Linked DNA regions of Homo sapiens. The protein of the gene in region 2 interacts with the protein of the main gene of each other region in a biochemical or structural test. Each region holds a gene or a part of one and is shown on either strand. Other genes may lie near its edges.

What was found.
Region 1: the proteins of GOPC (region 2) and SLC15A2 interact in a test that uses a peptide from one of them, tested with the Homo sapiens proteins (one large-scale study listed by IntAct).

What each region holds. Positions count from the first base shown.
Region 1 is NC_000003.12:121,939,244-121,942,044, forward strand, and holds part of SLC15A2 (solute carrier family 15 member 2), read left to right. Parts: intron 1-105; coding exon 106-252; intron 253-1,140; coding exon 1,141-1,245; intron 1,246-1,587; coding exon 1,588-1,764; 3' UTR 1,765-2,801. UniProt on the Homo sapiens protein: Proton-coupled amino-acid transporter that transports oligopeptides of 2 to 4 amino acids with a preference for dipeptides. Transports neutral and anionic dipeptides with a proton to peptide stoichiometry of 2:1 or 3:1.
Region 2 is NC_000006.12:117,564,389-117,568,045, reverse strand, and holds part of GOPC (Golgi-associated PDZ and coiled-coil motif-containing protein), read left to right. Parts: intron 1-1,011; coding exon 1,012-1,192; intron 1,193-3,657.

The DNA.
Region 1 (2,801 bases), on a different chromosome or scaffold from region 2:
GAATGAAAATACAAAAAGGATGGATATAAGATCGTAGAATGCTGTAGTTAGAAATATTTACTTGAGACTACTGACAAGTCCATTTCCATTTTCTCTTTCCCTAAGAACACCAATCAGGGTCTTCAGGCCTGGAAGATTGAAGACATTCCAGCCAACAAAATGTCCATTGCGTGGCAGCTACCACAATATGCCCTGGTTACAGCTGGGGAGGTCATGTTCTCTGTCACAGGTCTTGAGTTTTCTTATTCTCAGGTAAGTTTTTGCAAATAGAAGGTAGAAATTGAGGCATTGCTTGAAGGACAATGAATTTTAATTCTAGCACTGACTTAAATAGGTATGTTATCTCTTTTGGCCTTGGGTACCTTATTTATGACCCTGAACATATATGACCTGAACATCTTAACTCCCCAGGTCATGACAGTACAGCATGGGAGTCTATGATTTTGGGGTTCTAGGAAAGAGATTAAAGATTAAAATGAAGAGCTGCAGAGTCAGACTTCCCGTGTTCAAATTTTGGCTGCATGACCTATTGTGTAACCTTGAGCAAGTAAATTACTATCTCTGTAATGCTGTCGCCCAGGCTGGAGTGCAGTGGCGCGATCTCAGCTCACTGCATTCCAGCCTGAGCGACAGAGCGAGACTCCATCTGCCTCCCCGGCTCAAGCGATTCTCCTGCCTCAGCCTCTTGAGTAGCTGGGATTATAGGCGCACACCACCATTCCTGGCTAATTTTTGTATTTTTAGTAGAGACAGGGTTTCACCATGTTGGCCAGGCTGATCTCTAACTCCTGACCTTGGATGATCTGCCCACCTTGGCCTCCCAAAGTGCTAGGATTACAGGCTTGAGCTACTGCGCCCAGTCTGTAATACTATTTTTTAAATGTATAAGAATACGAATAGAACTTATCTCTTAGGATTGTAATGAAGATTATATGACATAATGAGTTTAAATATATTCAGTTAGGAGCTTCATCTTATTCTTACTGTTTACATTATTAACACCCTCTGAATCAATGTGATAGCTGAACTTAATAAGAGAAGTTCTAACTTGGAAGCTTTTGTGGGAGAAGTTTCCTGGATGCATGGGGCATGAGGGCAGTGAAGGGGGTTTGTTTACTTTCAAACTTGTGTCATCCCCAGGCTCCCTCTAGCATGAAATCTGTGCTCCAGGCAGCTTGGCTATTGACAATTGCAGTTGGGAATATCATCGTGCTTGTTGTGGCACAGTTCAGTGGCCTGGTACAGGTATGGATCTGAGGGAAGCAGGATTCATTTCTACTCAAGTTTTTCCTCCAGCTTTCTCTTCTCCCTTTCCCCCATCTCTCTGCTTCCCACATTCCCCATTCAGTGCTGTGACATGAAATGGGTTAGATATACAGACTTTACCAGGAAAATAGACATATGTAAGTGGCAATAATGACTACAATATACCTATGTGAGGAGAGGCCAGTGAACCCAGTCTTTGTCCAGCAAAAGTCTGGTTAAACTGGTGATCCCAGGTCAGTCTGCTCCCCACTCCTCATCCTGTAAAGATCTCTTTAGTTTCAGGTTTCTCCATATTCTTCTCATATTTATTTCCCCCTGCAGTGGGCCGAATTCATTTTGTTTTCCTGCCTCCTGCTGGTGATCTGCCTGATCTTCTCCATCATGGGCTACTACTATGTTCCTGTAAAGACAGAGGATATGCGGGGTCCAGCAGATAAGCACATTCCTCACATCCAGGGGAACATGATCAAACTAGAGACCAAGAAGACAAAACTCTGATGACTCCCTAGATTCTGTCCTGACCCCAATTCCTGGCCCTGTCTTGAAGCATTTTTTTTCTTCTACTGGATTAGACAAGAGAGATAGCAGCATATCAGAGCTGATCTCCTCCACCTTTCTCCAATGACAGAAGTTCCAGGACTGGTTTTCCAGTACATCTTTAAACAAGGCCCCAGAGACTCTATGTCTGCCCGTCCATCAGTGAACTCATTAAAACTTGTGCAGTGTTGCTGGAGCTGGCCTGGTGTCTCCAAATGACCATGAAAATACACACGTATAATGGAGATCATTCTCTGTGGGTATGCAAAGTTATGGGAATTCCTTTATAGGTAACTGCCATTTAGGACTGATGGCCCTAATTTTTGAGGTGCTGATTTAGAGGCAAAATTGCAGAATAACAAAGAAATGGTATTTCAAGTTTTTTTTTTTATAAGCAATGTAATTATGCTATTCACAGGGGCCTCAAGAATTGGTATGTATGATGTGATCTGGTCCAGCCAGGGCCTGGCTTGTCAGCTCTCTAGGTTTGATATGACTTTAGTAAATTTGTCAATATAGATGGTAGGAAGCAGAATGCCATTTTATTAAAACACAGGAGAAGTTATATCTCTCTGATTATGATAGTATTTTATTTACTTATCCAAACCCTCCTTTCTCAGTATGGATAGATCATGGAAACCAGATTAGAGATAGTAAGCATTAGTAAACATTGTTCTGGAGAACAGGAACAGGTGTAAGTTGTAGAAATCCTGAAGAGCCAGTCATTCTTTTACAGAGTACATTCTTCTTAGCCTCTATGGCGCTGGTCTATGCCCTTCAGTGAACAGTTGTATAAACAATAATTATAATTTGCAACCTTGTCTTGTCAACCTTGCTGATCCAGCTTTTTCTTATTATTACACCTTGTCTTGCTTATTGCAGCAAATATTCAATAACAACAATGTTTCTATAAGTCCAACTTCCTTTATTAATGTTTCCATTTAGCCTCAAAAATATCAAAGTAGTTCCTTTTTGATGTTGTTTTCCTGATTTACTTT
Region 2 (3,657 bases):
TTTTTTTTTTTTTTTTTTTGTAGAGATGGGTTTTGCCATGTTGCCCAGGCTGGTCTAGAATTCCTGAGCTCAAGCGATCCACCTGCCTCAGCCTCCCAAAGTGCTGGGATTACAGGTGTAAGCCACTGTGCCTGGCATGATCTGTAACTTTTTACTTGAATGTTTCATTGTTAAAGAATGACAGTACAAATATTACACAGTTAGTCTAGCATAATATAAAGATTAAGGACTTCAGAGTCAAACTTTTGTTTTTCTTTATTCTTGTTCATTATGTAGGGAAAGTTATCTGCTTTCTGCAGGACTCACTCAGCTTTCTCGTTCATGTAAAAGAGACTATAATAGGATTATTCTGGGGATTGAAGGCTATAATTTATAGTAAATATATAAATATAGTAATTACTATTAGTACGAGACAGAATACCTTGATTAACACTATGTCTGTGTCTGGTACTCAGTGTAAGTTCTTACTCAAGACCTATTGAATAAGAAACAAAAAATCATTTTGTAGGAGTTTCTTGAATTAGTTAAGAAAAGATTTATATGATGTCCTTATGGCAGTGTACAAAAATCATTTTCTAGGGGTTTCTTGAATTAGTTAAGGAAAGGTTTGTATGATATCCTTATTTAATATCTGACTATTTAGATGTATTTGCTGAATTGCTGTGTGCAGTACAAAGTAGCAAATAACTTTAAAACTGAATACTTGTTCCAAAATTCTATAAATTTAATAATTAAGCATCCTCTTAAATTTTAGATCTATTAGCAAAAAGACTATGGTCAGTAGAAAGAGCTACTATAATGTTTAAAGGAACTGTAGAGAGGATTCACGAGGCTGATCAGACATGATGGCCTCACTACCTCTTTAGATTCTAGAATTTTATTATTTATTTTCTGGAAATCAGCTATCTCTTAGATCTCTCTACCCCTAAGCCTTCCCACAAAGAATTTGGAAATCCTTTTTAAATTACAATTACAATAACTTGACTTTCTCATTTTCATTTCCTGTTTTAGAGAGGAGAGATTGAATTTGAAGTAGTTTATGTGGCTCCTGAAGTGGATTCTGATGATGAAAACGTAGAGTATGAAGATGAGAGTGGACATCGTTACCGTTTGTACCTTGATGAGTTAGAAGGAGGTGGTAACCCTGGTGCTAGTTGCAAAGACACAAGTGGGGAAATCAAAGTATTACAAGGTAAAAATCACTCTAAAAATTATTATTAACATATTCATTATTATTAAATGTTTAAAATGTGAAGGCCTCAGAATTTCTTCAGTAAAACTGTTTTGTGAGGAAATCAAAGGAATGAAGAGCTTTCCCTTGTTTATTGTTTTATTGTATACTATGCTAACAGTTTATTTACCATATATGTTCTTCTATATTCATCTTGGACTGTTAAGACAAGTACATTACCAGTTACTCTACTGCAAGTGATCCTTGAAAAATAAATAAAATTTTTTCTAGACTCTGAAACAAAGACCAATATACTATTTTGAGTAGATCTATCTTGTAGACTACATTGTCTGTCTGTCTTGATGCAAATTCATCTCTCACAATGAATTTTAAGCTAATTATGAATAAGTATGAAGTATACTGTCACCTTATGATTGCTATTAGAATCAACTTATATTATCTTGGGGATGTTTGGTTTAGTTCCTTTGCTATCATTTAGACATATTTTAAGGAAAAACTCTAGCACTTCCTTTTACATAGAGCAGTGGTCCTCAAATTGTGATCTGTGGATCTCTGAGGGTCTCTGAGATATTTTAGCAGAGTTCATGAGGTCAAAGCTTTTCATAATAATACTAAGACATCATTTGTCTTTTTTTGCTATGTTGATATTTGCACTGATGGTATCTGGTTGATGCAAAAGCAATTGGGGTAAAACTGCTGGTGCCTTAGCACTAATCAAGGCAGTGTTGCTAATACTAGTAACTGTACTAGTAATCATTGTTTTCTTCCTTGCCATCCATTCATAGTAAAAGAAGAAGATACCAATTTTGCTTAAAAATATCTTTGATGAAATGGCAGTAACAGTTAATTTTTAAATATTGACCTTTGAGTACCTGTCTTTTTAATATTCTTTGTGATGAGATGGGAAGTATGCATAAAGCACTTACTCTGCACACTGAACAAAGATGCTGGTTTCAAGGGAAAGTACATAAGTGACTGAACTAGCCATTTTTCTTCATGGAAGACAATTTTTACTTGAATGAATGACTAACAAAGTATGGATTTTCGGACTATTTGGAAGCCATTTTCTTAAAAATGAACAAAGTCCATCACTTCAGGAAAGACAACTGATAATATTTATTGCCAGTGATAAAATGTGAGCTCTCAAGTGAAAGTTAGAACTTTGTAAAACATACGTTGATCACCATGAGCTTGACAGCTTCCTAACACTTAAGCTTTTCTGATGAGATTGATGATGATATTAATGAATGTGATTTTTTGATACAGTAAAGTGAAATGTGTCAACTTTTGGAATTGCTACATAACTTCATGGTCCAATATTTTTCAAATCACCAGTAAATGAAGTTATAAAATTTTGCATGGGAAAAGATCCATTCAAAATGCAAGATAGGCAAATGGATTTTAATATAACAGAGTGTGAAAAGTTCACTGATAAGGTTTCAAATTCCACATTGTCAAATTTTTGTATAATATCAGAGAACAATACTGACAGTTATCTGAAAAGGCTGTTAAAATACTCTTCCATTTAGCAACTACATATCTGTGTGAGGCTGAACTTTCTTCATATACTTGTAATAGATTGAATGGAAGCAGATATATGAAAATACAGCTATCATCTACAAAGCCATTGAAGAGATTTGTAAAATTGTAAAATAATGCTACTCTTCTAACTAGAATTTTTTTGTTTGGAACATAGAGTTATTTGTCATTAGACAAATGTTATTTATATTAACCTTCTGGATTTATTGTCATTTTTAACAAAGAAATGAATTTTTTTTTAGATTTTTCAATTTTACCTACTAATATGGGAAACATCAGTAGCTATAATCCACATAAACAGAAGCTTCTTGGAGTCCTCAATGCTTAGTATAAAGGCCTCCTGAGACCAAAATGTTGAACTCCTGGCATGGAGTTTTATGGTGAACTGATAAACTGTTGCACTTTTGATAAACTTGTGTGTTGTAAACTGTCTGCACAAAGATAGCAGTAGCAGTTACTGTTTTCACTGTGCATCTTGAGCAAAACTATTGTGGCAGTATGTCAAAACCTTAATTGTTGGGCTGCTCTCCATATGGTTTCATTGTATTTCACACTTGCTGTTTTCTGTCGGGATTAGAAAGCCTGTCTCTTCCTTTTTTTTGTAACTGAGGCTAGAAGTCTTCTCTGTCACATATGCAAATTGCAGACACTTAAAATGTGACTCAACTAAAAATTTGTGTGTATATATCTTTTAACTGACTCACTTAAAAAAATGTATCTATTGGTTATTGTTTCACACGTCTATACTTTATAGATATATATATCACCTAAATAGGTGATATAGTCAACACTTATTTATTTATAAGCCTATTATTTATTTTATAGATGATCAGAATTCGTTTTAAGTTTTAGCTAGACATCATCTTGCCAACAAATTACATTTTAAGCAATTAACTAGTATATGCCTCAGTTAACTGAAGTTAATG